Linked DNA regions of Homo sapiens. The protein of the gene in region 3 interacts with the protein of the main gene of each other region in a pairwise test. Each region holds a gene or a part of one and is shown on either strand. Other genes may lie near its edges.

What was found.
Region 1: the proteins of ZNF426 (region 3) and TSGA10 interact in binary tests that used the Homo sapiens proteins (3 or more experiments, as listed by UniProt).
Region 2: the proteins of ZNF426 (region 3) and KCTD9 interact in binary tests that used the Homo sapiens proteins (3 or more experiments, as listed by UniProt).
Region 4: the proteins of ZNF426 (region 3) and MPPE1 interact in binary tests that used the Homo sapiens proteins (3 or more experiments, as listed by UniProt).
Region 5: the proteins of ZNF426 (region 3) and RFC5 interact in binary tests that used the Homo sapiens proteins (3 or more experiments, as listed by UniProt).
Region 6: the proteins of ZNF426 (region 3) and NLRP12 interact in a two-hybrid assay, tested with the Homo sapiens proteins (one large-scale study listed by IntAct).
Region 7: the proteins of ZNF426 (region 3) and NATD1 interact in binary tests that used the Homo sapiens proteins (3 or more experiments, as listed by UniProt).

Annotation. Positions count from the first base shown.
Region 1 is NC_000002.12:99,148,083-99,152,605, reverse strand, and holds part of TSGA10 (testis-specific gene 10 protein), read left to right. Parts: intron 1-936; exon of another isoform or gene 937-1,771; coding exon of another isoform or gene 1,772-2,047; exon of another isoform or gene 2,048-2,123; intron 2,124-4,257; exon of another isoform or gene 4,258-4,342; intron 4,343-4,523. Other genes in the region: uncharacterized protein C2orf15, read right to left, coding at 1,772-2,047. UniProt on the Homo sapiens protein: Plays a role in spermatogenesis. When overexpressed, prevents nuclear localization of HIF1A.
Region 2 is NC_000008.11:25,426,792-25,431,314, reverse strand, and holds the end of KCTD9 (BTB/POZ domain-containing protein KCTD9), read left to right. Parts: intron 1-1,341; coding exon 1,342-1,458; 3' UTR 1,459-3,468; downstream 3,469-4,523. UniProt on the Homo sapiens protein: Substrate-specific adapter of a BCR (BTB-CUL3-RBX1) E3 ubiquitin-protein ligase complex, which mediates the ubiquitination of target proteins, leading to their degradation by the proteasome.
Region 3 is NC_000019.10:9,527,986-9,532,508, reverse strand, and holds part of ZNF426 (zinc finger protein 426), read left to right. Parts: intron 1-1,441; coding exon 1,442-1,524; intron 1,525-2,872; coding exon 2,873-4,129; 3' UTR 4,130-4,523. UniProt on the Homo sapiens protein: May be involved in transcriptional regulation.
Region 4 is NC_000018.10:11,894,575-11,899,097, reverse strand, and holds part of MPPE1 (metallophosphoesterase 1), read left to right. Parts: intron 1-1,477; exon of another isoform or gene 1,478-1,572; intron 1,573-1,741; 5' UTR 1,742-1,833; coding exon 1,834-2,114; intron 2,115-3,820; exon of another isoform or gene 3,821-3,913; intron 3,914-4,523.
Region 5 is NC_000012.12:118,019,006-118,023,528, forward strand, and holds part of RFC5 (replication factor C subunit 5), read left to right. Parts: intron 1-66; coding exon 67-131; intron 132-626; coding exon 627-763; intron 764-1,900; coding exon 1,901-1,980; intron 1,981-3,280; coding exon 3,281-3,354; intron 3,355-4,523. UniProt on the Homo sapiens protein: Subunit of the replication factor C (RFC) complex which acts during elongation of primed DNA templates by DNA polymerases delta and epsilon, and is necessary for ATP-dependent loading of proliferating cell nuclear antigen (PCNA) onto primed DNA.
Region 6 is NC_000019.10:53,796,568-53,801,090, forward strand, and holds part of NLRP12 (NACHT, LRR and PYD domains-containing protein 12), read right to left. Parts: intron 1,965-4,523; coding exon of another isoform or gene 1,847-1,964; coding exon 1,676-1,846; intron 1-1,675. UniProt on the Homo sapiens protein: Plays an essential role as an potent mitigator of inflammation. Primarily expressed in dendritic cells and macrophages, inhibits both canonical and non-canonical NF-kappa-B and ERK activation pathways.
Region 7 is NC_000017.11:21,237,616-21,241,159, reverse strand, and holds the end of NATD1 (protein NATD1), read left to right. Parts: 3' UTR 1-2,290; downstream 2,291-3,544.

The DNA.
Region 1 (4,523 bases), on a different chromosome or scaffold from region 3:
ATCAACTTGCTTTCAAAAATGTCCTGAGATACGCTTTCCCATTTCCCACGTTAAAATCAAGTTTATGGCCCAGTGGGAGGATCACCTGAGGCCAGGAGTTTGAGACCAGTCTGGGTAACATTGTAAGACTCTGTCTCTAAAAAAATACAAAAACATGCTGGGTATGGTGGCACATGCCTGTAATCCTAGCTACTAGGAGGCTGAGGCAGGAAGATCGCTTAAGAACAGGAATTCGACACTGCACTGAGCTATGATCGCTCCACTGCACTCCAGCCTGGGCAACAGAGTGAGACCATCTTAAAAAAAATCAGTTTTATGTGGTATGTCTTGTGTTGTGTTATGTCCCTCTGAATGCTATACGTTTCTTCATGGCATATCACAATTTGCATCTTATATAATTACTGTATAATCTCCTGTCTTTCCTAGTAGACAGGCACAAAACTCTACAAGGCACTGGCTATTTTATTCACTACTGTATCTCCAGCACCAAGCACAGTGCCAGGCTAGGTGAACAAATGAATGATTTATGTATTTTTTTTCTCTTCTAAAGAATTACGTTCTGTAAATAATAAAAAGCATTGTCTTTTTGGCTTATGTCCCATTCAACAATTGTTTTTCACTCTCAATATTCCCTACAAACACATTTGTTTAGTATTTTTCTGATTAATAAAATATAGCTTCCCCCCGGAAAAGATGCCCTTTCCTCTTTTAAAATGAATATTAAAGAGATTTCCAACTACCAGATATTTTCATAACTGATATACAAAACAAGGTTTTTAAACAGGTTGTTTTTTCTCATATTAAATATTGGTGACATAAAATGGTACCATCTGCAAGACAAACTATTAACACTTGGAAAGAACACTTTTCTAACTCTAAAATGGATTCTATGTGGGGGGAAAAAGCAGTTTTAAAGGCACGATTTAAAATGTGAAATCCTTCTGAAGATATGCAATTTATTGGTCTTTTGCAGTTTATTGGCAGTGATCTTTTACAGAACAAAAATGCAAAATGTAAGAAAGTAAAGTATCATAAAGCAGAATCCCAAAATGGAAATGTAACATACAAAACTGATACACCAGAAATATTGTGAAATACGGATGTCACATTGCTTGGACTTTTTTTTTTTTTTTTTTTTTTTTGAGACGGAGTTTTGCTCTTGTTGCCCAGGCTGGAGTACAATGGCATGACCTCAGCTCAGTGCAGCCTCCGCCTCCAGGGTTCAAGCGATTCTCCTTCCTCAGCCTCCCAGGTAGCTGGGATCACAGGTGCCCACCACCATGCCTGGCTAACTTTTTGCATTTTTAGTAGAGATGGGGTCTCACCATATTGGCCAGGCTGGTTGCGAACTCCTGACCTCAGGTGATTGACCCGCCTTGGCCTCCCAAAGTGCTGGGATTACAGGTGTGAGCCACTGCGCCCGGCTGCTTGGACACTTTTTTTAACCACTTGTTAAAGAAATACATTAAAATGAAAATGTTTTGATGCCATTCAAATACTGTTACTTAAAAACTCTGGTTTTTAAGAAGGATATAATATAATACCAGAGAAATCTGCTTTGAATCTTGGAAGGCTTTTTCACCCTAAAGCAACTGCCTTTTGAATAAGCATCATAAAAAAATGCAGTGTAAGATGATTCACAAATAGTGCAAAATAAGGCAATAGTCTTCCATCATTTTGTCAGGGTTTCCTAATAAGGTTAAGTTCTCTTTCAACACCCCCCTTAGTCAAAGGCAGTTTTTGGTTTCTTTGGTAATACGTACAAATTGCTTCATTCCACATCTGTCATTTCTAGTCCATCACTTTCTTTGACATATACCACTGAACCCAAGGCTTTCCCAGAAAGAGATCCTGTGCCAGTCCCTTCAATCCTTGTAAAGTTTTCTTGATTTGTGTCTTCTAATCTTATTTTCTTGGTGTTTTGAAATAACTGAGTCGCTGGTTCCAACCTGCTTTTTTCAGTCCCTCGTATTAAGTGATCATCCACTTTTGAATCCATATGTATAGCAGATACCTGAGTAGCAGATTTACTAAGTGAAAATCCCATTAGGATAGCTGAACAAATGTGAAAGTAATTTGCAGGTACCTTTTTAAGTAGTGGAAGTGTTTCTTCAACTTGATTACTGAAAAAAAAAAAAAAAGTAACAAGTGAATGCAGCAGGAATTTCCCTAACTTCATGGCAATGTTTGTTTGAATGAAAAGCTGTGGTGATACTAGAAATATAAAGTAAAATTGCCTCCTACCTTTCAGTGTTTACATTTTCTTTGTGGGAGGGTTTGCAGGTTCTAAAGATTTATTTGAAAGTCTTTTTAAAAGGAAATTTATCTGATTGTATGTTTTATCACCTTTCAGAAAATAGTAGAGCTTCTCTTAGTCCTTTCTTTCATTCTTGCTAGCGAAACCTCTTTATTCATTACTAATGGGCTAAAGAAATAACGACTGAAGGCCAAGTACTCTGCTAGTACTTTATTTTCTGTAAAAAATAAAGATGTCCTATAAAGATACTTGTGATTGGCTGGGTGCGGTGGCCCACGCCTGTAATCCCAGCACTTTGGGGGCCGAGGCGGGTGGATCACCAAAGGTTAGGATTGAGAGACCAGCCTGGCCAACATGGTGAAACCCCATCTCTGCTAAAAATACAAAAATTAGCTGGGTGTGGTGGCATGCACCTGAAATCCCAGCTATTCAGGAGGCTGAGGCAAGAGAATAGCTTGAACCTGGAAGACGGAGGTTGCAGTGAGCCAATATTGCACCACTGCACTCCAGCCTGGGCGACAAGAGCGAGACTCTGTCTTAAAAAAAAAAAAAAAAAAAAAAAAGATACTTGTGATTAAGGATGTCTAGTCTGTAAAAAGAGATGATCGGCCGAGCGCAGTGGCTCACACCTGTAATCCCAGCACTTTGGGAGGCTGAGGTGGGTGGATCACGAGGTCAGGAGATCGAGACCATCCTGGCTAATATGGTGAAACCCCATCTGTATTAAAAATACCAAGAATTAGCCGGGCGTGGTGGCGGGCACCTGTAGTCCCAGCTACTCGGGAGGCTGAGGCAGAAGAATGGTGTGAACCCGGGAGGCTGAGGTTGCAGTGAGCCGAGATCGCGCCACTGCACTCCAGCCTGGGCGACAGAGCGAGACTCCGTCTTAAAAAAAAAAAAAAAAAAGATGATCATGTAGCATGGAGGGAGGCCTTGGGAAGTTTCCCAAAGGAGGGGAGCCTAGGTTAGGGTTTCGCTTTCAAAGATGGGCAGGAATTTGGTAGGCAGAGTTGACCAGGATGGCAGAAGGGACAGGCTTCCTGTACAGAAAAGGTTTGAGAAAGCCCAGGGCTTACTGGAGAAGAGTGATCTACCCAAGATGCTATAGTAGCAACCTGAGATCTGGAGCAGATTCCACAGCTTCGATCGAAATCCCTCACCCATTTTTTTTTTTTTTTTGAGATGGAGTTTCACCCTTTCACCCAGGCTGGAGTGAAGTGGTGCGATCTCGGCTCACTGGACCTCCACCCGGCAGGTTAAAGTGATTTTCCTGCCTCAGCCTCCTGAGTAGCTGGGATTACAGGTGCCCGCCACCAGGCCCAGCTAATGTTTGTATTTTTATTTTTATTTTTATTTATTTTTTTTCCAGTCTATATTTTATTTATTGTGGTAAAATATATATAACATTTACCATTTTAAACACTTTTAAGTGTACAATTCAATGACATTGAGTACATTTACATTTTTGTGCAAACATCATGGTCATCCATCTCCAGAACTTTTAATCATCCCAAACAGAAACTCTAACGTTTGTATTTTTAGTAGAGACGGGGTTTCCCCATGTTGACCAGGCTGGTCTTGAACCCCTGACCTCAGGTGATCCACCCACCTCAGCTCCCAAAGTGCTAGGATTACAAGCATGAGCCACTGCGCTCAGCCTCACCCACTTTTTAGAATGTATTATGTCTTTAATATTTACCTACTGTGGTATCTTTGATAGTTTACAATTTCATACTCATCAAGCTGTAATTACTGACTGAACATTTCTAAAGAATCATCTTGAAACCCTGTTTATCCATATTTGTGACTGAATATCAGTGTTTATAACAAAACAGAGTCCTGGGTCTACTGTAGTAGCCTAAATATAGTACTTACTCAAATATTAATATAACAATTAGGTAAATAGTATATATTTGGCTTTCTGGGACTCAAATACAACTTAGCTAAATTTTTTAATATCTCTGATGAAATTCTGAAATATGGGTATATTTGATTTTTAGATTTGGAACTTGAAGATGAATTTTTCTTCCTCATCAAAGGAATATCTAATACTGCCTTCAAATGAATAAAATTGAGTTTATTCTATTTGGTTTCTCTTTTTCTTAGAAAGGAAATACTCCTGTCAAATGCATAACTTGAATCTAAACATGAGGAAACAATCAGATAAACCCAAACAGAAGTATCTTCTATGAAACAAATAGCTTCTACCTAAAAATGTCAATGTTATGAAAGACACAGAGAGGCTGAGGAACTGTTTCAGATTAAA
Region 2 (4,523 bases), on a different chromosome or scaffold from region 3:
TAAAAAGAAGGGCAGTTCCTTGCTATAAAAATACTAGGGCTAGGGAATGGAAAAATCTATTACACAATTTGATTAAGTAAAATCTTTTCAGATTAAAAAAAAAGTCTTCCCCCCATCTCATTCCTTTTGTTGTTGTTGTTCTTGGATCATAGTAAAATTGTTTTGATAATATTTATTACTTTGGGGCCAGGCGCAGTGGCTCATGCCTGTAACCCCAGCATTTTGGGAGGCCAAGGTGGGCGAATCACTTGAGGTTAGGAGTTTGAGACCAGCCTGGCCAACATGGTGAAACCCCGTCTCTACTAAAAATAGAAAAAATTAGCCAGGCGTGGTGGTGAGTGCCTGTAACCCCAGCTACTCTGGAAGCTGAGGCAGGAGAATAGCTCGAATCCTGGAGGTGGAGGTTGCAGTGAGCCGAGATTGCACTCCAGCCTGGGCAACAAGAGCAAAACTCCGTTTCAAAAAAAAAATTGTGTGTGTGTGTGTGTGTGTGTGTGTGTGTGTGTATTTATTATGTTGGAATCCATTCTGTATTTTAAATCAGTGGTCCCCAACCTTTTTGGCACCAGGGACTGGTTTTGTGGAAGAAAATATTTTCACAGATCAGAGTCGGGGGCTGGTTTTGGGATGATTCAAGCGCGTTACATTTATTGTGCACTTTATTTCTACTAGTATTACATTGTAATACATAATGAAATAATTATATAACTCACCATAATGTAGAATCAGTGGGAGCCCTGAGTTTGTTTTCTTGCAACTAGACAGTCCCATCTGGGGGTGTTGGAGACAGTGACAGATCATCAGGCATTAGATTCTCATGAGGAGTACCCCACCTAGATCCCTCACATGTGCAGTTCACAATAGGGTTCACGCTCCTGTGCGAATCTAATGCCCCTGCTGATCTGACAGGAGGTGGAGCTCAGGCTGTAACTTGAGCCATACAGGGACTGGCTGTAAATACAGATGAAGCTTCATCTACTGGTGACCTCCTGCTGTGTGGCCTGATTCTTAACAGGCCATGGACCAGTATCAGTCTGTGGCCCAGGGGTTGGGGACCCCTGTTTTCAATGTCTCCTTATAAAATATGCAAGAACAAGGGACATGCTTCCTCTTTAACCTTTGTTTATACATATTTATGGTGATCAGCCTGAACTAGAGGTAACAAATAAAGATAGAAGAACATCTTAATTTAGGGTGGTGTATCATCAGTTTTCCGGAAATTAACTGAGTTTTATTGTATAAGAACATTTTCCTAATCTGCCCCAGAAATCATTTTGAGCAGAAATAGATAAGGCCTGAAATTTCCACATGAATTACATGAATATTGTTTTCATCTTGCAGAATTGTGATCTGTCTGGGTGTGATCTTCAAGAAGCCAACCTGAGAGGGTCCAACGTGAAGGGAGCTATATTTGAAGAGATGCTGACACCACTACACATGTCACAAAGTGTCAGATGAGAATTTTAGGGGCTGGAGGAAGATGTAAAAGATGAAAATGTTTTCCTTATCACTTTTCTTTCTCCACCCACTCAGTTGTCTAGAAGAAATAACACTGTAAGGAAATTTAAAAAAAAAACATTTAGAGGATTATGCTTGTTTTGAGTGGTGCATAAGGGAAAAAACTGACTTTTTTTCCATATTCTGATTTTTAACAGAAAAGCACTCATTTAATAGATGTAGGGAAACTAGATATTGCTGCCTTTTGAATGGGGTAGGGGGGTTTACCTGGTTTTATGACCAGGCATAGTATCTATTATATTTGCTTTTAAATAGGCATGATGTGGAAATACCATCTTGGTTTGAGATGCATTTGAGGATTTTAATTTATGGAAAGCACAACATATGCAATTATATTTATTGAATTCCTAGATGCAGTATGGATATTTAAATTGTTAAAACTTTATGAAAACTTGGAAAAGGTTGTTCAGGTTTATAAATAGCTTTAGTGATGCCTCCCCTCTTTAAATACCTGTCACACCGTATGAATATGGTGAGATCAGACTCCCTAAGACTCTTTTCAGGTTCATTTTTATAATGTTTACTTTTTAGGACAGAACAGTAGCTAAATTAAAGTAATATCCAGTTCTTACTGATTGAGACAGAGTGGAAAGAAAGACATCATTGTACATCACTGTCATTCCAAAGGTACAGTGTAACTCTGGATGGAGGAATAACTTACCTATCACTACAACACTTACAAATGAGAATTTCTCAGAATTTCATTCTAGGCAAGTTCCACTCAACACCAGATCAAGCAATTCTATCTATTTACACTATTAGCCTAGTTTTCTCATACAGTCATCACAAGCATAGGAAGATACTTCAAAACCAAAAAAACCAAGGTGCATCATTAATATTCATTTAATTCAAATACCAAATAGTTTACATAGGGCCAGCTTAGAAATAGATACTAAATCCAGAGCTACTGCAATCAAAGCTTATATGAGTGAATATGGTAGAGTTGCCTGCTAAAAGGCAATGTAATATAATTGCAGCTAGAACCCTACAGTGGGGAATGAGGAATTTTAAACACACATTTGATTACAGCCACCAAAAAAATAGACGTAAAAATAAAGGCATTTGGCTGGTCCAAGATGTAATTATCAATCAGTCAGCACCTGTGATTCTTTTACTTATTTTTTTGTGGTTTTTTTTTTTTAAACAAATTTTAGCCCAATTTTCTTGAGTCATTCTCTCTCTGCAGCAGCAGAGGAAGGGCCTGTACCTCCCTACCAATGACTTGGTGTCCTTATTTTCTACCCCAAGAGCAGGGATATTAGCTGTGTCCAAATGGGTTCTGAATTCTACAGACTCATCAACATGAGGCAAGGAATCATTGAAAACCACCTGTGTCTCCTTTGGGAGAATGACATATCTTTAGTATTTACGTAGCTTATTCTTCTATATCTACATATGCAAAGCTTTCCTTAACAGTAAAGGGTACATATGCATAGTGGGAGGAGATCAGACCTTTACAAGTGAAGGAAAGCAACTTCAGAAATGAATTATTTTCTTTGCTTTATTATTTTTACCAAGACAGAGAAGTATTGTATTGAGAGATAATCTATTTTCATAATCAATATGTGCCTAAATTATATTTAAATCATTTCACTCTGTACTATATTTTCAGGAATTACAGAATGTGGTATTCATTCACTTAAAGGTACCTCTGTAGAAATAACCTAAAACTGCAGAAGGATCTGAAAGATCTAAACATGGTGTGCTTAGAAACTGCAGATTTTAGATCTAATGTATACTGCATTAATAAATGATATAAAGTGTTTGTTGAAAAGGAGTTTCTTCTCTTCCTTTTGAAAATCATCACTTTCTGTATTTTGCTTACATTTCTTCAATATGTGTTGACAACCAGCCCTGTGGTTCTGGGTAGCAAAGGAAATACAGTATAACTTAATTTGTTATGGATTAGTCTTTTTGAAAGTACCATTAAAGTAAATTTATTTCTTTAAACATGATTATTTTTATCATTCTTTTAAAAATACACCATGCTAACAACACAAACCTTATGAATTCTGAACAAAAGAAAAGACTGCCTCCCCAATAATTCGTTTAATTTGTTTGTGTTAAATTCATCACTCTTTAGGTGATGAATATTACCAGTTAGCTTTATTAGACTGGATAAATAGCATGCCCCAAAACATTTTTTGCCTGATAACTAGGATAGAGAATTTTAAGGAGGGAAGAAACCGTTAAAATAGTAAAACTTCCATTAACCCTAGAGATGAAACATGTCTGTACACATAGGTAAAAATACAGCTGTTGGGATGACAGGAAAAAGGTTTTAAATCAAAATTAAACTAGCTGGATTATCTGCATTAATAAAATTTGGTACTCAACTAAGCAATACTATCTATTGTAGTCTAGTTCTTTCAACTATAGTCTCAAGGAAATTCTGGTAGAAAATGTTGTAAATTAATTATTCTTATGAAGGGTTCAATCATAAATCAAGACTTGGAATATTTTCTCCATTTCATTTTATGACTCTTATGTGTACTGTAAATCTGCCCTATGTCAACTTTAAATCATCTTTAATATATGGAAAAAACTTAGAATTGCACTAAGTAAGTCCCCAAGGAAGAATTACCTTTAAAATTAAAAGGTTCATTACTACAAAGAAAAGTGGTTACATTATTTCAGTATAAAGCACCTTATCCAAGGATTAATTCTCTGAAACCCTTTTACAACCTGATTAGACATGTCAGCAGGAGTTAACCTTAAGTGCTTCCTGCTGAGATTTTACATTAGGGCAAGAAAAGATTTTTTTCATCTGTCATTTCAGTGATATTATGAGATCATCGCTGTAATAATTTTGAGGTGTTTTGATGTTGATGAAGCAGTTTTTTCTCTAAAGCCATTCTTTCAAATTTAGAAAAAAATATGACAAATATAAAATCCAATTATTTAAACCCAATTTATTATATTTAACTTTTTGATAAACTGACCTAACCATGGAATCCTTAAATGGTTTTAAGTTTGTCATTCAATATCAAAAACTCATTAATTGC
Region 3 (4,523 bases):
CTGGGCAACATACCGAGAACCTTGTTTCTACAAAAAATACAAAAATTAGCCGAGGGTGGTGGGACGCACCTGCTGTCCCAGTAACTCAGGAGACTGAGCTGTGAGGATGGATTGAGACTAGGAGGTCAAGGCTGTGGTGAGATGTGATTGCACCACTGTACTCCAGCCTGGGTGATAGAGTGAGACCCTGGCCACTGACCCCCACCCCACAAAAAAAAAAAAAAAAAAAAGAAAAAAAGAAAAATTTCCAGAAATAAACAAAACATAAGTTTTAAATTTCTCACCATTCTCAGTAGTATGATGAACCCTTATGTCATCCTGCCTGGGGTGTGAATCATCCTTTTGTCCAATGTATCTACACTGTGTACACCACCTGTGAGTCACGTAGCGGTCATCTCAGTTACCAGATCGAAGAATCATAGTATGTACAGGGTTCAGAACTAGCCATGATTCAGGCATCCACCTGGGGTCTTAGAACATTTCTTTAAGTTAATTGTGGCTTTTGTTTGTTTGTTTTGTTTTTTGAGATGGAGTCTTGCTCTGTCGCCCAGGCTGGAGTGCAATGGTGCAATCTCAGCTCACTGCAAGCTCCACCTCCCGGGTTTATGCCGTTCTCCTGCCTCAGCCTCCCAAGTAGCTGGGACTACAGGTGCCTGCCACCATGCCTGGCTAATTTTTTTATATCTTTAGTAGAGACGGGGTTTCACCGTGTTAGCCAGGATAATCTCAATATCCTGACCTCGTGATCTGCCTGCCTCGGCCTCCCAAAGTGCTGGGATTAAAGGCATGAGCCACCGTGCCCGGCCAAGTTAATTGTTTAGATATACGCTCTTTTTTCAGAAATTTCCTACTTTCATTCCCTGATTCTCTCTATTCACTATCAGTTTTAATTTTCATAGCATCAATTTGTAATAAACGATCGAAAAGTTTTACCCCATGTCCTTGTCTTGGCCAATTTTTCCCCCTTTGGATCATTTACATCAAAACCAAATTTTTGATATAGCCCAAATCCCCAAATGTCTTTCTGCTTTTTCTTGCCATGTTTAATTTGAAACAAATAGAAATAAGCCATATTGTTTTGAACTCTTTGCATTTCTTTCTCCAAATCCTTTCATTTGTTCTTGTTGTGGTTCACTCTGTTTGTTGCCAAGGCTGGAGTGCAGTGGTGTGATCTGAGCTCCTTACAACCTCTGCCTCCTGGATTCAAGAGATTCTCCAGCCTGAGCCCCGTGAGTAGCTGGGATTGCAGGTGCTCACCACCACACCCAGCTAGCTTTTGAATTTTTAGTAGAGGTGGGGTTTTGCCATGTTGGCCAGGCTGGTCTCAAACTCCTGACCTCAAGTGATCCACCTGCCTTAGCCTCCCAAAGTGCTGGGATTACAGGCATGAGCCACTGTGCCTAGCTTGAGTCCTTTTATTTGTTTGTCTGTTTTATTTCAGGATGGGAAATGCGACTTGAAACCCAGTGGTCTATACTTCAGCAGGACTTTTTGAGGGGTCAGACATCCATTGGGATACAATTGGTAAGATTTGCATAGGATATTTTTTATTTTCCACCCTCAGAGAAAATCAGGAATTCTGTTATGGGAAGTCAGCAAAAATAAGAGATATTTGAGAGAAGTTGCATACACATGAGAGGGAGCAAAGAATTTAGGGATGCTCCAATTGTGAAACTTGTTTCTTTGGAGCTTTCACACATTCCCACAAGTGTAACTAGACGTTGAGTTTTGTTTTGGTGTTTTTTTGAAACGAGATACTGCTCTGTCACCCAGGCTGGAGTGCAGTGGTGCAATCATGGCTCAGTATAGTCTTGACCTCCTGGGCTCAGGCGATCCTCCCACCTCAGCCTCCCTTGGTAGCTGGGACTACAGGCATGCACCACCACACCCAGCTAATTCTTCAAAATTTTGTGGAGACAGGGTCTTACTGTGTTTCCCAGGCTAGTCTCAAACTCCTGTGCTCAAGTGATCCTCTGCCTCAGTTTACAAAAGTGCTGGGAGTACAGGCATGAGCCACCACATCTGGCTTAGACTATGAATTTTTTTTTTTTGGTCGAGACAAGGTCTTGCTGTGTCACCCAGGCTGGATTGCAGTGGCACAAACATGGCTCACTGAAGCCTTGACCCCTTGGCTCAAGTGATCCTCCCACCTCAGCCTCCTATGTGGTTGGGACTACAGGAACACACCACCATGCCCAGCTAATTTTTTGATATTTTTTATAGAGATGGAGTTTTGCCATGTTGCCCAGGCTGGTCTCTAATTCCTGGGTTCAAATGATCCACCCACCTTTGCCTCCCAAAATGCTGGGATTACAAATGTGAGCTACTGCACCCATCTAGACATTGAATTCTACAGAAATCTGTTATTATTATTATTATTATTATTTTGAGACGGAGTCTCGCTTTGTTGCCCAGGCTAGAGTGCAGTGGTGTGATCTTGGGTCACTGCAACCTCCGCCTCCCAGGTTCAAGCGATTCTTGTGTCTCAGCCTCCCAAGTAGCTGGGATTACAGGCATGTGCCACCAAGCCCAGCTAATTTTTGTATTTTTAGTAGAGACAGGGTTTCACCATGTTGGCCATGCTGGTCTTGAACTCCTGACCTCAGGTGATCTGCCCCCCATCGGACTCCCAAAGTGCTGGGATTACAGGCATGAGACACCATGCCTAGCCAAGATTAAAGTAGATGGCACAACATTCTAGAATAAGAGTTAAGTCATACCACTTAAAATAAATCTACAGGGAAGGACCTGAATGCATGTAATAAAAATGGCATCAATTATAATCACCATTATAATGTTTCTAGCTTCAGATGGGTATGTTCTGTTAATATGTTTGAGAAAAATCCTTAAATCATCATCATCCCTTCAACAGGAAGGAAAACACAATGGAAGGGAACTCTGTGACTGTGAGCAATGTGGAGAAGTCTTCAGTGAACACTCATGCCTTAAGACGCACGTGAGAACTCAAAGTACAGGGAACACTCATGACTGTAATCAGTATGGAAAAGATTTCCTTACCCTGTGTGAGAAAACCTCTACTGGTGAGAAACTTTCTGAGTTTAATCAGAGTGAAAAAATCTTCAGCCTGACACCAAATATTGTATACCAGAGAACTAGCACACAAGAAAAGTCATTTGAATGTAGTCACTGTGGAAAATCCTTCATTAATGAGTCATACCTTCAGGCACATATGAGAACTCACAATGGAGAAAAACTCTACGAATGGAGGAATTATGGGCCAGGTTTTATTGACTCTACAAGCCTTTCTGTGCTTATAGAAACCCTCAATGCAAAAAAGCCCTACAAATGTAAGGAATGTGGAAAAGGCTATAGATACCCAGCCTACCTCAGTATTCACATGCGAACCCACACTGGGGAGAAACCATATGAATGTAAGGAATGTGGGAAAGCCTTCAATTATTCCAACTCATTTCAGATACATGGAAGAACTCACACTGGAGAGAAACCCTATGTATGTAAGGAATGTGGGAAAGCCTTCACTCAGTACTCGGGCCTTAGTATGCATGTACGATCTCACAGTGGAGACAAGCCCTATGAATGTAAGGAATGTGGGAAATCCTTCCTTACATCCTCACGCCTTATTCAACATATAAGAACTCACACTGGAGAGAAGCCTTTTGTATGTGTTGAATGTGGGAAAGCCTTTGCAGTTTCCTCAAATCTTAGTGGACATTTGAGAACTCACACTGAAGAGAAGGCCTGTGAGTGTAAGATATGTGGGAAAGTATTTGGGTATCCCTCATGTCTTAATAATCACATGCGAACGCACAGTGCCCAGAAACCATACACCTGTAAGGAATGTGGGAAGGCTTTTAACTATTCCACCCACCTTAAAATTCACATGCGAATCCACACTGGAGAAAAACCCTATGAGTGTAAACAATGTGGAAAGGCCTTCAGTCATTCCAGTTCATTTCAAATACATGAAAGGACTCACACTGGAGAGAAACCCTATGAATGCAAGGAGTGTGGGAAAGCCTTCACGTGTTCCAGTTCCTTTAGAATTCATGAAAAAACTCACACAGAAGAGAAACCCTATAAATGTCAGCAATGCGGGAAAGCTTACAGTCATCCCCGTTCACTTCGAAGACATGAACAAATTCACTAGTGAGAAACTGTCCATGTAATAAATGTGGGAAAGCTCTCATTTGTTCCAGTTCACTTTAAAGACATGAATGAACTCACTCTGGAGAGAAGAAGCTGCATGAAAATTACTTAATTCCTGTAATCCCAGCATTTTGAGAGGCTGAGGTGGGTGGATCACTTGAGGTCAGGAGTTTGAGACCACCCTGGCCAACATGGTGAAACCTTGTCTCTACTGAAAATACAAAAAATTTAGCCAGGTGTGGTGGGCACCTGTAATCCCAGCTACTTGGGAGGCTGAGGCAAGTGAATCACTTGAACCCAGGAAGCAGAGGTTGCAGTGAGCAGAGATCATGCCACTGCACTCCAGCCTGGGCGATGGAGTGAGACTCCATCTCAAAAAAAAAAAAAAAAGAAAA
Region 4 (4,523 bases), on a different chromosome or scaffold from region 3:
ACTAAAAATACAAAAAAACAAAATTAGCTGGGCGTGGTGGCACACACCTGTAATCCCAGCTACTCGGGAGGCTGAGGCATGAGAATCACTTGAACCTGGGAGGCAGAGGTTGCAGTGAGCTGACATTGTGCCATTGCACTCCAGCCTGGGTGACAGAGTGAGATTCTGTCTCAGAAAAAAAAAAAAAGTTTAATTAATGAAGGCTGGCCACTGAGAGATGGAATTATTACTCAAATCAGTTTCTCTGAATCTCAGAAGTTAGGGTTTTTATGGACAATTTTGTGGGCAGGGAGCTGGGGAATAGGAGTTGTTGATTGGTTGGGAATGAAATCATAGGGATGTGGAAAACAGTCCTTGTGTGCTGAGTCCACTTCTGGGTGGGGTCATAGGATCAGTTGAGCCATGAAATATGGGTCCCAGCAGGGTCAGTCAGGTAGGGTAAATCAGTTGCCCGAAAGTCTGAAAAATATGTCAAAAGACCAATCTTAGGATCTACAATAGTGATGTTATTTATAGGAGAAATTGAAGGAAGTCACAAATCTTTGTTACCTCTGGCCTCATGACTCCTGAGCATTTAGGGATTATAGAAACTACATTCAGCAGAATTCAAGCCCCTCCCCTAATCCTAATCTCGATACCTTTCATTAGTTTTCAAAGGTGGTTTCAGCCTCAGAACAGGGAGTAGACTATTATCATCATCCTTGCTTCAAAGTTAAACTATAAACTGGCCTGGCAAAGTGGCTCACGCCTGTAATCCCAGCACTTTGGGAGGTTGAGGCAGGTGGTTCATTTGAGGTCAGGAGTTTGAGACTAGCCTGGCCAACATGGCGAAAAACCGTCTCTGCTAAAAAAAATACAAAAATTAGCTGGACGTGGTGACGAGTGCCTGCAATCCCAGCTACTTGGGAGGCCGAGGCATGAGAATCACTTGAACCCAGGAGGCGGAGGTTGCAGTGAGCCCAGATCACACCACTGCACTCCAGCCTGGGTGACAGGGGAGACCCCATTTCAAAAACAAAACAAAACAAAACAAAACAAACAAACAAAAACCTATAAACCAAATTTCTCCCAAAGTTAGCTTGGCCTATATCCAGGAATGACCAAGGACATCTTGGCAGTCAGAAACAAGATGGAGTCAACTATGTCAGATTTCTGTTACTGTTATAATTTTGCAAAGGTGGTTTCACTGTCAGATCCTGGCCTCTGGGTCCAATGTGGAATGAATTCCTTGGATCTTTGAAGCACATTGTCCATGAATATTCACTTATTTTGTGGAAAAGCAGAGTAGAAAAGTGATGAATTAACACCAAAAGCAACACATTACAGGCGGCTTGTGACCTGTTGATTTTTAAGGTCAAGGAGGGGTGGTGGGGAATCCTGGGAGTCAAAATTACACTTAAATAATACTGAATTTTCCCATTATGTCTCCTACCTTGACACACATCATTCTCATGGATTCCCATTTGATGATTTCTAGAATATTAATGAAACTTTATCATCTTGGTGAGAAAAGCATTCTAATAGCTTTATTCTGACATACGGAGGTATGGAGAGCTTGAAGGAGTCAGAGAGGTCAGTTGTTTTCCTTATTAGTAATCTGGCATATTATTATTGTAAAAGTATAAGACGATTAATTTGGAAATGTAGATAGGATTATGTAACTCATTAGTTCTTAATAGAGGGAGGTCGTGATACCTGTATTATTAGGGAACATAACTGAATTCTTTTCCTTTTCCCGTAGGTGCCCAGCTAAGACCTGAATGCCATCACCCTCCCCAGGGCTCTGCAGTTTTCTCGTGGTGAACCCTTGATGGATTTGTTGTTGCTTGAGAAATGGCGATGATCGAATTGGGGTTTGGAAGACAGAATTTTCATCCATTAAAGAGGAAGAGTTCATTGCTGTTGAAACTCATAGCTGTTGTCTTTGCTGTGCTTCTATTTTGTGAATTTTTAATCTATTACTTAGCGATCTTTCAGTGTAATTGGCCTGAAGTGAAAACCACAGCCTCTGATGGTGAACAGACCACACGTGAGCCTGTGCTCAAAGCCATGTTTTTGGCTGACACCCATTTGCTTGGGGAATTCCTAGGCCACTGGCTGGACAAATTACGAAGGTAAGAGGTAAAATCAGGAATCTTTCTAAAATTCTGTAGGCAAAACGGTATAGCCCTCTCCTCATAGGCAAGGCTTATGGCTTTAGGTTACTCTTAGTTATTTTCCTCTCAAAGGAGGACATTTAGGGACATTTGACTTTTCCTTGAATTTACCATTTACTGAGGATATATACAGGGCCCCATAATTTGGGAGTCAGATCTGGGCCACATCGCTTTGTGACTTTGGACAAGTTGTTAGGGCCCCTCTGAGCCCCTGCCTCCTTGTTTGTAACTGGATTAAGACAAGAAACATCACAAGATGTGCCACGCAATGACAACAAGATGCTACACAATGCCTGGTGCCTGGGACTGGTCCCCTGGGCAGGGGAGGACACAGATGTGGGTTGGTGGTCCCATCTCACCTTCATTGCTGTGTAACTTTGAGCCTATTGGGTTTCAGCCTCCTCTAGGCAGCAGAGGAGCAGAGCAGATTTGTGGCTGTCACCCTGGGGAAGGATCAGGTCCTATCTTTCCAACTCACACCTGCCCCTGCATGGTCCATTGTTTTTTTCACCAGGAAGCTTTTTAAACAAATTATTTTTAGGCCAGGTGCACTGGCTCACGCCTGTAATCCCAGCACTTTGGGAGGCCAAGGCAGGTGGATCACCTGAGGTCAGGAGTTCAAGACCAGCCTGGCCAACATGGTGCAACTCCATCTCTACTAAAAATAGAAAAATTAGCTGAGCATGATGGCGGGCGCCTGTAATCTCAGCTACTCCGGAGGCAGAGGCAGGAGAATCGCTTAAACCTGGGAGGCAGAGGTTGCAGTGAGCTGAGATTGCACCACTGCACTCCAGCCTGGGCAACAGAGCAAGATTCCATCTCAAAAAAAAAAAAAAAAAAAAAAAAGAATAAAGAATAAGAATAATGAAAGAGCAGCTATACCTTTTTACTAAGAGTTTTAACCAAAGGAGGCATGAGCTCAAGAAGGGCCGGTGGGGGGCCTGCAGTGTCTTGGTCTTACAAATTGATCCTGATTGATGTCTGGTCTCGCCAAGTAGCCTTCTGTACCTTCTTCCTGCTGCTGTTTCTAGATTTTTACTTCCCATGGTGAATAACATTAAATCAAGAGAGACTGAGAAGCTGGGTGCAGTGCTTCACGCCTGTAATCCCAGCACTTTAGGAGGTGGAGGTGAAGAACTGCTTGAGGCCAGGAATTTGAGACCAGCCTGGGCAACGTGGCAAGACCTCATTTCTACAAAAAAACAATAAACAAAAACCAAAAATAGCTAATTTTTGCTCTTTATGCCCGCTTGTAGTCCTAGTGACTCAGCAGGCTGAGGCAGGAGGATCGCTTGAGCTACTTTGAGCACCAGAGTTTGAGCCTCCAGTGAGCTATGACCATGGCACTGCAGTCCAGCCTGGGCGACAGAGCAAGAGCCTGTCTCTAAAAAAAAAAAAGTAAAATAAAATAAGAAAAACGGAGAAATGTATTTTGAGAGAGATCTTGGGTAAAAAGCCTTTCAGGGGTGATGTGTACCATTCAGTTCACTTGGGATCTAAAAATCTTCCTCTGACCAGAAATTACATTGACTGATTAAAATGGGGTCTAGCTCTGTTGCCCAGGCTGGAGGGCAGTAGTAGGATCATAGCTCACTGCAGTCTCCCAAGTAGCTAGGACAACAGGCTTGTGCCACTACGCCCAGCTAATTTTTACTTTTTTGTAGAGATGGAGTTTTGCTGTGTTGCCCATGCTGGTTTTGAACTCCTGGCCTCAAGTGATCCTCCCTCCTTGGCCTCCCAAAGCATTGAAATTACAGGTGTGAGTCACTGCACCCAGCCTACTTTCCCCTATTTATATATCCCAGGACATAGCATTTCCCTTTTGTAGAGGAGGAGCAGCCAGGAAAATGCCTTAAAAAGGAGGAAAGGTTTGGATTCCTTAGAAAAATGACATAGGCTGGATTTGGTTAGGTTGAAGACGGGGAGGGCTGAGCAAACACTGACATTTTTGAGCACCTGCTGTGTGCCTGTGCCATGCTTTACAAATGCTGTCTTATTTAACCCTGTAACTATCCTGTGCAAGTAGGGTTTAAAATCCCCATTTACCGGCCGGCCGGGTGTGGTGGCTCATGCCTGTAATCCCAGCACTTTTGGGAGGCTGAGGCGGGTGGATCACCAGAGGTCAGGAGTTCGAGACCAGCCTGACCAACATGGAGAAACCCCGTCTCTACTAAATATACAAAATTAGCTGGGTGTGGTGGCACATGCCTGTAATCCCAGCTACTTGGGAGGCTGAGGCGGAAGAATCATTTGAAACGGGGAGGCAGAGGTCGCATTGAGCCGAGATCACACCATTGTACTCCAGCCTGGGCAACAAGAGCGAAACTGCATCTCAAAAAATAAATAAATAAAATAAAATAAAATCGC
Region 5 (4,523 bases), on a different chromosome or scaffold from region 3:
ATTCTTTTGCACATAAAATATTCTTGCATTTATATATGTCATAATACATACTAAATTGTATTTCAGGGTTGAAAAATACCGGCCACAGACCCTGAATGATCTCATTTCTCATCAGGACATTCTGAGTACCAGTAAGTATTCATGTGTCAGTTGCTCTTGTCCTGCTTGAGCGACTTGTATAAATTGCTTGGTGATGTTGTCTCTCCTAAGTAATAACTTCAAAGAATCTGATTGCGCTTTGTAGAATGTGGCTTTAAGATCATTCATTCATTTTCTTCAGGTTGCTACAGTCCAGTGGGTAAGTCACAAACATGAGCATAAAATTGCAACACAGTGGAGTAAAAATAGCATTACGGAGAATCATTTAAGTTCACAGATGTTGCCAGCACCCAGAAAGGTGCCTGTAACACAGTAGGCACTCAATAAATACTTGTTGACTGGCTGCGCTATTGAGTGAATTCCAGTTGTTCCACGAAAGTAGATATGAGGCCCCTACATCAAGTTGTATCTGCCTCTGATTTGGACATTGAATTGGGTTGAAGAGCTTTCAGCCCAACTCAGGAGCCCAGGGTGAATGAGGCAGCTCCCAAAGACTGATGGTGCCCTTCTTCCTTCCTGATCCTCAGTTCAGAAGTTTATCAATGAAGACCGACTGCCACACTTGCTTCTCTACGGTCCCCCAGGGACAGGCAAGACATCTACCATCCTAGCCTGTGCGAAACAGCTATATAAAGACAAAGAATTTGGCTCCATGGTCTTGGAGGTAAATAAGATTGTTCTTACTCTACAAATAACTTAAGAGACTCCAGTCTCTTAATTTCAGTTCTGCTGGTTTTATTTTACTTTAAAAGTAAGTTGCCCCACGGACAGTTAGGAAAGAAGTAAATTTGAATATTTTAATTCCCTTTTTCCTATAATGGTCATTTTGGTCTGGATTAGCGTTGGTCAGCTAGAGGGCAGTTGTAGGGTTTGGCACCTTTTTCTTTGCTCTTGCCAACTTCTCCCCAAACCTTACTTTATGGTGACTTGGTTGCTGCCTGTCTGCCATGGCCCCTCTAGATCAATTCTCCACGTTTCTCCACCATATTCCTGCCTGGAAGGCTGAGCCCTACTGACTATAAGCTCACTTACCCTCTGGCTCCTGGTTGGGTTTGGCCAATAGGGGCCTTGGCAGGGGTGGGGGAAGGAAGTGAGTGATGCCTGGGCCTTCCCTGGGGGCTGACACAGGCTGGCAGCATGGCCCACCTGTAGGGTACATCTCACAGGTGGTACCTTTCCTGCAGCCCTCTCCAGGTGCCTACAGCCACTCCCTTCACTAAGCCCTTCAGGCTCAAGGGTGACAGGTATTGCATAGCCCCATGGTTTTCCTATATCACACCTTTAAAAAGATCTTGTTTAATTCTCTTCAAATTGCTGCATTTGAGTATGCCATCTGTATATTGCTGGGACCTTGACTAATATACTTAGATTCAAAAATCTGAGTATTGTCTATTGCAAGAAAAGTTTAACTTACTTTTTAGACGCAGGTCTCAGAACTTTGCTGCTACTAATGTCCTTATTTCAGTTTATTAAGAACTTGGTAACTTAGGATTGTGGTAGCTGAAATTTGTATCATTCTGCTCATACCAGAGGTGCTGTTCAGTGTAACCATACCAATTAATTATTTCTCCAATTTATGTCAGTCATTGTCCTCAAAGGGTGGGGGTAATATAGCCATCTTTATTAATTTAGTGAATTTTGTGTAAAACTGATTTTTTATTTTATGATGATCTCTTAGCCATCATTAGACATAGAGAGCTAGCCTGCTGAGCTGGACTGATGAGGAAATACACTAACACCAAGAACTCACAGATAGCACAGCAACATGGTTTTTGTTTTGTCTTCTGTCTTCCACATTTAGCTGAATGCTTCAGATGACCGAGGAATAGACATCATTCGAGGACCGATCCTGAGCTTTGCTAGCACAAGGACAATATTTAAGTAAGAATTATTTGTGTAATTTCGCTCCCTTGATTTTGATTAGTAAGATGATATGGGTTAATTTTTTAATCCTCTCCTTAGCCAGTTTATATGGGTTGAAAAAAAAAGTGACTTTGTCCAAAGCAACCATGGAAAAGAGATAAACGAGAGGGATGGTAGTAAGAAGCGTTATAATGCAACTGTTAAAATAAAATGTTATCTACGCTTGTATTAGCAAGTTTGTTTTTTTTTTCTTTTTTTTTTGGAGACAGGGTCGCCCTGTATCGTACAGGCTGGAGTGCAGTAGCATGATCTCGGCTCACTGCAACCTCCACCTCCTGGGTTCAAGCGATCTTCCAGCCTCAGCCTCCTAAGTAGCTGGGACTACAGTCGTGAGCCATCACGCCCAACTAATTTTTGTATTTTTTAGTAGACATGGGGTTTTGCCATGTTGCCTAGGCTGGTCTCGAACTCCTGAGCTCAAGCAATCTGCCCGCCGCAGCCTCCCAAACTGCTGGGATTACATACGTGAGCCCAGCCTGCATTACCAAGTTCTTTAGGGAGCATTAACTTCATTTTTAGTTCCTGAGAACTGGCTAGATTACCCTAAGACTGGATGAGCTAGTTTGAATTTAAAAATAAATTGAGATCAGGAAGGACAACTAGGATGGTGGCTAAAAAAAAAAAAAGAAAGAAAGAAAAAGGGTGAGGGCCGGGCGCAGTGGCTCACACCTGTAATCCTAGGACTTTGGGAGGCCTAGGCAGGTGGATCACCTGAGATCAAGGGTTCAAGACCAGCATGGCCAACATAGTGAAACCTCGTCTCTACTAAAAATACAAAAATTATCTGGGCATGGTGGTGGGCGCCTGTAATCCCAGCCACTCAGGAGGCTGAGGCAGGAGAATCGCTTGAACCCAGGAGGCAGAGGTTGCAGCGAGCCAAGATCGCGGCACTGCACTCCAGCCTGGGCAACAGAGCAAAAACTTAGTCTCAAAAAAAGCAAAAGGGTGAGGGACTCAGGCATGAGTGAGGGAGACGGGAAAAGCAGTAGCATGGTAGGGTGCCATGTGGAGGAAAGTGAAGATGCCAGAGGACACAGCGCACAGAAGTAGAGAAGTCTCCTCCATTCCCACCAAGGGTTGAAGGAGTGATGCGGCATTTCCTCTCTGAGTGACCAAAGATGTCTGCCTTGGCCAAAGTTCTAGAAGAAATTGTCTTTCTGAGACAGGGCCCGATGGCACAATGGGAAGATATAGGTTTGAGCCCAGATGTTGAGATGAGATTGAAGAAATCTTTAGACAGCACCATTTGTTTTTCTAGGAAAGGCTTTAAGCTAGTGATCTTGGATGAAGCAGACGCCATGACTCAGGACGCCCAGAATGCCTTGAGAAGAGGTAAGCAGAGGCACTGTGGAGCGTTTGGGCTGGTGTGCACACTGGAAGGAGAATTAGGAACTTTGTGTTTGTTGCTGTTGTCATTGTTTTTTTAGGCGGGGGGGAGTTTTTTTTTCTTTTTTTGAGTCAGAGTCTTGCTCTGTCACCCAGGTTGGAGTGCAGTGGCGCAATCTTGGCTCACTGCAGCCTCTGCCTCCTGGGTTCAAGCGATTCTCTGACCTCAGCCTCTTGAGTAGCTGGGATTACAGGCATGCACCACCACACCCGGCTGATTTTTATATTTTTAGTAGAGATGGGGTTTCACCATGTTGGCCAGGCTGGTCTCGACCTCCTGACCTTGGGTGATCCGCCCGCCTCGGCTTCCCAAAGTGCTGGGATTACAGGAGAATTAGGAACTTTAAGCTTCCCAAAGTGCTGGGATTACAGGAGAATTAGGATGTGAGATATGGCTTGGCTTGTTTTCAGTTTTCATCTTCTGGCCCAGAGAAATCTCTATGCCTTTCTCTGTGTCTCCCATCTAATGACACAGGCTAGATACCTCTGTAGCGGGACTTCCCCTTCAGCAGCCTAGGGACTAAGCCCTGCGGGGACTTTTAAGTCTGGCCAGTCACTGGTGTTCAACCTCCTTTGACACTGGGTTCAATTTCAGAGTTGGGAATTCATATCTTTCCGTGGGATGGGGTGTGGAAAATCTTTCATCCTTAAGCTATCAGATAGTCCTTCTGCTAATAGTACCCTCTCCTTTCTACTAATGGTACCCTTTGAACCACAATGGCTAGGAAAAGCATATCTGAAGTTGAGGTGCTCAGAGAGCTGATATTACTTCACTGCTTGCCAAGTGAATGATTTGGCAGCGGGAGGGACAGCACCCTGCGATTTGTCTGTCTTCAGGGGCCTAGCGCAGTTCTTTTCTCTTAAAGGACACTTGTCATCTCTCATTAAGATTCCAAGTGAATCAGCTTTGAGAGAAGAACGATCTTTAGGAGTTTGTGGCGAGGGAGTAGATGGCAGCACATGTTAAGAGAAGGATGGGGGAAGGGGGAGGAGGAGGAGGGGGGAGGAGGGGAGGAAGAGGAGGGGGTGAGGAGGAGGAGGGGGAGGAGAAGGCGGAGGAGGAGGGTAGGGGGAGGTGGAGGAGGAGAGGTGGGGGAGGAGGAGGAGGAGGAGGA
Region 6 (4,523 bases), about 44 Mb from region 3:
GAGAGGGGATTTCACCATGTTGGCCAGACTGGTCTCAAACTCCTGACCTCAAGTGATCCACCAACCTTGGCCTCCCAAAGTGCTGGGATTATAGGCGTGAGCCACTACGCCCAGCCTCTGAAACATTTTAAAAAATTATCTGGGTTAGGCCGGGCGTGGTGGCTCACGCCTGTAATTCCAGCACTTTGGGAGGCCGAGGCAGGCAGATCACCTGAGGTCGGGAGTTCAAGACCAGCCTGACCAACATGAGAAACCCCGTCTCTACTAAAAATACAAAATTAGCCGGGGTGGTGGCGCATGCCTGTAATCCCAGCTACTCGGGAGGCTGAGGCAGGAATTGCTTGAACCCGGGAGGTGGAGGTTGCAGTGAGCCAAGATCGTGCCACTGCACTCCAGGGTGACAGGGAGACCCTGTTTTAAAAAAAAAAAAAATCCCAAATAAACTAGATGATGCCTCATCCCATTCTAAGTCCTTCAGATTAGGGCTACAGCTGGCCTGGCAGAAAGGTGAGGGAGAAAGTCACAATTAACATTTGATTGGAATTTACAGAGCACCAGATTGAATTATTATTTTTTTTTCTCGAGATGGAGTCTTTCTCTGGCACCTAGGCTGGAGTGCAATGGTGTGATCTCCGCTCACTGCAACCTCCACCTCCTGGGTTCAAGTGATTCTCCTGCCTCAGCCTCCTGTGTAGCTGGGATTACAGACACCCACCACCACGCCAGGCTAATTTTTGTATTCTTAATAGAGATGGCCATGTTGGCCAGGCTGGTCTCAAACTCCTGACCTCATGATCTGTCCGCCTTGGACTCCCAAAGTGCTGGGATTACAGGCATGAGCCACTGTGCCCGGCCTGAATTATTATTTTTGAGACAGAGTCTTGCTCTATCACCCAGGCTGGAGGGCAGTGGCATGATCTCAGCTCACTGTAATCTCGCCTCCCAGGTTCAAGTCATTCTCCTGCCTCAACCTCCCGAGTAGCTGGGATTACAGGCATGCGCCACCACACTGGGTTAATTTTTGTATTTTTGTAGAATGGTGTTTCACCGTTTTGGCCAGGCTGGTCTCGAACTCCTGACCTCAGGTGATCCACCCGCCTCGGCCTCCCAAAGTGCTGGGATTGCAGGCATTAAGCTACCGTGCCCAGCCTCTTTTGTAATTTTTAAATTTTAATTTTTTTTTTTTTTGAGACAGAGTTTCACTCTTGTTGCCCAGGCTGGAGTGCAATGGCATGATCTCGGCTCACTGAAACCTCTACTTCCCAGGTACAAGCGATTCTCCTGTCTCAGCCTCCCAAGTAGCTCGGATTACAGGCATGTGCCACCAGGCCCGGCTATTTTTTTTGTATTTAGTAGAGACAGGGTTTCACCGTGTTAGGCTGGTCTTGAACTCCTGACCTCAGGTGATCCACCCACCTCGGCTTCCCAAAGTGCTGGGATTACAGGCATGCGCCATCGCGCCTGGCCTTAAGTTTTTAAAATTTTAAGTCGGGTAGCACCCCCAAATCAGAATAAGTTCAGAGAGACTTCCTGTCTTTTCTTTCCACCTCTCTTCTTGCTACCTGAATCTTTTGTAGTGAAGCAGGATAGTTCATAAATAGAAAAATGAAGGATGAGAAGGCGCTTCCACTGTCCAAACGTGACCACTGCCACCCCGTCACTCCCCGATGCTCACCACAGTTTCTGGAGTCTGCAGGCGGGATGTTGCAGCCCCTCAGCCAGCAACCACAGGCCCCAGTCTCCCAGGTCGTTGAAACTCAAGTCCAGCTCCCGGAGGTTGTGGTTGGCCTGGAGCACCACAGAAAGACCCTCACAGGCGGCAGAGCCCAGCCGGCAGATGCCCAACCTGCAAAGACAGGATGCTAGGGCGGAGTGGGAGGCATTCCTCCTGCAAAATCTGCTGGGAGGGCCCTGTGCCAAGCCCTGTGCTGGTTGCAGACAGAGGGACAGACTCAATCTCTACCCTTGAGAGACAAAAAGAAAAAGACGACAGAAGTAGGAAGATGAGAGGAAGGGAGGAATAAGAGAACAGAAGGAAGCAACTAAGAATCAGGCCAGGTGCCCTGGCTCATGCCTGTCATCCCAGCATCTTGGGAGGCTTGAGGCTGGAGGGTTTTTTGAGGTCAGGAGTTTGTGACCAGTCTGGACAACCAATAACTTGTCTGTACAAAAAAAAATTTTTTTTCTTTTTGCGATGGCGTTTCCCTCTTGTTGTCCAGGCTGGAGTGCAATGGTGCAATCTCGGCTCACTGCAACCTCCACCTCACAAGCTCAAGCGATTCTCCTGCCTCAGTCTCCCAAGTAGATGGGATTACAGGCATGTGGCAACATGCCCGGCTAATTTTTGTATTTTTAGTACAAGCGGGGTTTCACCATGTTGGTCAGGCTGGTTTCGAACTCCTGACCTTAGGTGATCCACCCGCCTCAGCCTCCTATCTACAAATTTTTTTTTTTTTTTTTTTTGAGACAGAGTCTTGCAATGTCGCCCAGGCTGGAGTGCAGTGGCGTGATCTTGGCTCACTGCAACCTCCGCCTCCTGGGTTCAAGTGATTCTTCTGCCTCAGCCTCCTGAGTAGCTGTGACTACAGGTGCACACCACCACGCCCAGCTAATTTTTGTATTTTTAGTAGAGACGGGGTTTCACCAGTTGGCCAGGATGGTCTCCATCTCTTGACCTCGTGATCCACCCGCCTCAGCCTCCCAAAGTGCTGGGTTTACAGGCATGAGCCACCGCGCCCAGCCGCGTGTGTGATTTTTTGTTTTTTGTTTTTTGCTGGTGCCTTGATAAAAAAAATACACAAAGTGTGTTTTTTGAGCACTTCTACCCACGTCTTATACTAGTCACTAGGAGATACAGTTGGCATAGCTCCTATGCTTGTGGAATGCCACCACACACACATATACACAAATTACAAATTTTTCTTTTTTTTTTTTGAGATGGAATCTCGCTCTGTCATCCAGGCTGGAGTGCAGTGGCAAAATCTCAGCTCACTGCAACCTCCGGCTCCCGGGTTCAAGCAATTCTTCTGCCTCAGCCTCCTGAGTACCTGGATATCAGGCGTCCGCCACCATGCCTGGCTAATTTTTATATTTTTAGTAGAGACGGGGTTTCACCATGTTGGCCAGGCTAGTCTTGAACTCCTGACCTCAGGTCATTCTCCCACCTTGGCCTCCCAAAGTGCTAAGATTACAGGTGTGAGCCACCGCATCCTGCCTTCAGATTTCAATAAATGATGCTGAGGGGGAAGTATGAGGTCACATAGGATCATAAATCTAGGAACCCAGATTTTAGCTAGGGATTAGAAAGGGTGTCCAGCTGGGTGTAGTGGGTCACACCTGTAATCCCAGCACTTTGGAAGGCCAAGGCCAGAGGATCTCCTAAGGCCAGGAGTTTGACACCAGCCTAGGCAACAAATCGAGACCTTGTCCCTACAAAAAATAAATAAAAATTGGCCAGGCGCAGTGGCTCACGCCTGTAATCCCAGCACTTTGGGAGGCCGAGGCAGGTGGATCATGAGGTCAGGAGAGAGAGACCATCCTGGCTAACACGGTGAAACCCCATCTCTACTAAAAAAATGTTTTTAAAAATTAGCCGGGCATGGTGGCGGGCACCTTTAGTCCCAGCTACTCGGGAGGCTGAGGCAGGAGAATGGTGTGAACCCGGGAGGTGGAGCTCGCAGTAAGCTGAGATCGCGCCACCGCACTCCAGCCTGGGCGACAGGGCAAGACTCGTCTCAAAAAAAAAGTAAAAATTAGCCATCTGTGGTGGCATGCGCTTGCAGTCCCAGCTACTCAGGAGGCTGAGTTGGGAGGATGGCTTCAGCCCAGGATGTCGGGCTATGATCACACCACTCCACTCCAGCACTGGTGACAGAGCAAGACCCTGTCTCAAAATACAAAGTAAAGAGTGTTCAGAAGAAAAATTGAACTTCTCCAGGCAAAGAGGGGACAGAGAGCAGAAGGCATGCCAGGGAATAAGAATTGCTTGTGCAAAGGGCCGTGCGTCAGAAAACCCCCCCCTTTTTTTTTTTTGAGACGGAGTTTCGCTCTTGTTGCCCAGACTGGAGTGCAATGGCTCCATCTCAGCTCACAGCAACTTCCACCTCCCGGGTTCAACGGATTCTCCTGCCTCAGCCTCGCGAGTAGCTGGCATTATAGGCATGCACCACCATGCCTGGCTACTTTTGTATTTTTAGTACAGATGGGGTGTTTCTACATGTTGGTCAGGCTGGTCTCGAATTCCCCACCTCAGGTGATCCTCCCACCTCGGCCTCCCAAAAGTGCTGGAATTAAGGTGTCAGCCACCATGCCCGGCCAGAAAAATCCTTTTAAAAAGGCTGATGTAGGCTGGGTGCAGTGGCTCAAGCCTGTAATCCCAGCACTTTGGGAGGCCAAGGCAGGCAGATCATGAGGTCAGTAGATCGAGACCATCCTGCTAACATGATGAAACCCTGTCTCTACTAAAAATACAAAAAATTAGCTGGGCTTGGTGGCGGGCGCCTGTAATCTCAGCTACTTGGGAG
Region 7 (3,544 bases), on a different chromosome or scaffold from region 3:
TGTTCCCACTCCCACCTAAGATTCCTACCCCTGTGTTCTAGCAGGTGACTCTTGATCTGGCCAGCCCACAACAAATACTTGAACTAGGCAGCATGGGGTGGTGGAGGCCTGCAGAGGCCCCGGGCCCAGGAACTGAGACTAGGGCTTTCTCATGAGGCCTCATCAAGCTCCCGCAGGTATGACCTGGCCTCCTCGCCTCGGGCTGCCTTAAAGCACCGCTAACCCACGCCAAGGGGCTAGGCAGGGCTTCGCGGGGCCTGGCCCAAGGTCTCCAGCAGAGCAATAACATCTTCCCAGGTTGGGTTGCCACAGACACCGTGCCCTGGAGCCCCCAGCCCATCCCATCTGGTGCTACCCTGTCTGCCTGGCAGCCTAGCCTCACCCCTCCTGTCCGGTCACCTGGGGGTCCTTGGTAAGGATGCCGCCACATGGGGCCGGTTTATGCACCTGGGCGAGAACCTGACTGGGGCAGGGGATGCTCAGGGGCCTGCAGGTCTCCCACAGAGCTGCTTTTCTGCCCGCCTCACCCTGTGGGTTTGTATTTCTTGCCGGGTCAAAATAGGCAGTGACTCGTGCCTTCCCTCCTCAGGGCCGGCGGCAGGGTGTGGACCCAGCTGGCCGCTGGACCGTCCCCTTCCTCATTCTCCAAGCTCATCAACAGGTCTCAGAGGAACATTTCCATAAAAGGTGTGGCCTGGCATGCAGTGCTGTCTGCACGCTGTCGCTTCCCCCACAGCAACCTGCCGGTCAGCCTTAACTGGTGTGGAGGTCGAGGTGGGGAGGGGGAGGCGGGCTTCCCTCCCTGGTGTCTGGCCTCTTTTTGCTCAGCCCTCAGCACAGCCTTCAGCGTGGAGAGCGAGACCCTGCGTGTCACTGGGGCTTGGCTGAGGTCTCCCTGCAGGATAACAGTGACTTCAGGAACCCAGACCCCAGTCTGGGCGGCTCTACCTTCCCGGCTGGCCCAGCCCCCACACCACAGTTCCCTGCCACCTCCAGGCACAAAAGCCTCTGAGGCCACAGCCCAGCTATGAAGCTGAGTGGCTTTGTGCGGTCTCCTAGGGAAGGGGCAGTGATGCCATGCATGAGATCCGCTGTGCCATAAGAAGTTGCTTCCTTTAGAATTTCTGGTCCAATGCAGGGAGGTGAGGCCCAGCCTCATGATAACACATGCCCATCAAGGAAAAGCTGTGGCTAATGCTTCCAAAACAAGTGAAAATCTTGCACCAGGCCCAGGGCCATATCTCATTCCGCCCCAGCTACTGAGGGAGGGGACAGACTGCTGGAGGACAATTTCTCCTAGTTACCACTAGGGGTTACATGGCTACTCAGAATGAAAGATAAATTGCCAGGCCTGTTGCAATCTTTTTTTTGAGATGGGAGTCTTGCTCTGTCGCCCAGGCTGGAGTGCAGAGGTGCGATCTCAGCTCACTGCAACCTCCACCTCCCGGGTCAAGCAATTCTCCTGCCTCAGCTTCCCGAGTAGCTGGAATTACAGGTGCCCACCACCATGCCTGGCTAATTTTTGTATTTTTAGTAGAGACGGGGTTTCACCATGTTGGCCAGGCTGGTCTTGAACACCTGACCTCAAATGATCCGCCCACCTCGGCCTCCCAAAGTGTTGGGATTACAGGCGTGAGCCACCTCACCAGGCCCCGTTGCAATCTTACTCCACTTCGTTTTCACAGCAGTCCCGGGACATGCCCATTATTAGGCCTATTTGATAGATGATACTGAGGCTGAGTCGGGGGTCACAAGCCAAAGCCACACCGCTAGAAGGGCTCAGGACCCAGCCCAGCTCCCGTCCTCTTGGTGGCATCAAGCTTGTGTGATATGAGGTCTTATGTCTGCTCATGACAGCCTTAAAAGCAATAAACAGATACAACTTCCAGCAACTTCCCACTCAGCTGCAAGGCTGCGGGGGGGTCCTGCCTCGAGCCATAAGGTGAGCAGCTAGCCAGTGCCGGGCCAGTGTGGAGAAGGCTGAATTGCCTGTGAAGCTGGGGTTGCAGGCAGGAATATTCATGGAGCCCCTGACCATGTACTCACACTGCTCTTCCTCAGTTCAGGGTTCTTGGATTTGCTCAAGTCCACCCAAATATCCCTTTACGATTCTCAGGGTCCCACTCCTTCCAGATCCAATGCCCTAAACTTTACATAAGAGTTCCGGCAAGGCTGTGACTTCAACTTGTGTTGTAACTGCAACCTGCAGAATCAAATTTAGGGTTATGTTTTCAGTTGTATCAGTCTTACGGCTACAAGATATTAAAGAGATTCTTTTCTGGTTATCAAAGATGCTCTCTGGTTTTCTGTCCATGTTTTGAGCTGGGTTTATCACTTCTGACTCCAGTGTAGTCAGAAGCCACCAGTCTCTCCAGCTGTCCCCATGACATGAAGGGCTGCAGCCATTTGGTCTCTCAAACTTTGCCTTCAAGAGACACTTCACGCCAGGCACTTAACATAGGTGATATTGTGAGGACTAGTTTTGCCACTGAATGCTGTGACTTTCCAGGGTACCACATCCCCTCTGACAGTGAGGTCATTACTGCGTTCCAGCCCAATCCAGGCAGATAACCAGTCCCCGATTTCCAGCATTAAGGCTCTATTTCTAGGAAGTCATTCCTGCTACCAAGGACATTACCAGTCAGTGAAGAGTCAGGAAAATGGAAATTGCCCAGGCACTTCAGAGTGGATTTAATGCAGGGGACTGGTTATGAAAACTGTTGGAAGGATGAGAGGAGTGAGAGTGGAGGTGAGATTGCCAAAATATTGGTAAGTAAGTGCAGGAAGCTGCTTTTACATGGAGGCTGGAGGAACAGGTGTCACCCAGAAGCGTCTGGGGATCACAGGGCTGCTAGGGTACTCCTGGTAGAAAGTTGATGGCTGAACAAGACCCAGGTGTGCATGCCTGCTGTTGCCACCACTAAAAAAACCCCCAGATCCAGGAACTTTACTGCCTTCTGATTGATCAGTGCTTCCTACCAGCAGAAACAAATTGGAAGCCCACTGGTAAGGGCTCTAGCAAATGTAGTTTGCAGGCTTCCAGCTTCTCTGTGATCAGAGAAGGGAAGGGCTGGCAACCAACAGACAATCAGGGCAAGGAGAAATATTCTTGCCTGCAGGGGCTGTGGCATATGACATAAATGCCAGTTCATTGATACCAAGGCTGAGGCAAAGCATCTAGAGGATGACAGACCCCAGAACCAGGCAGACCAAGAATGGATGGATAGTGGGTAGATGATTGGGTGATAGATGGAGGGGTAGATGAGTGGGTGGATGGGTAAGTGGGTGGATGGATGTGTGGACGGGTGAGATAATGGTTATTAGCAATACCAGCTCATCTGCCATCACTAATACCAGCACATCATGCACTGGAGTGCTAAAAGTAAAAGGTCCCTTGTCTTGGGAAGAGCTTGTCTGAGGGTCGAGGGAGACACTTGTAGGCCATTAAACATGGAGTCAGGTGGGAGATCTGGCTGGGTGAGATTCTATCATTTTCTGAATTAGGGAGAGGGTGGAACCCAGGAGTTGAAAGACGGGGCCCCTT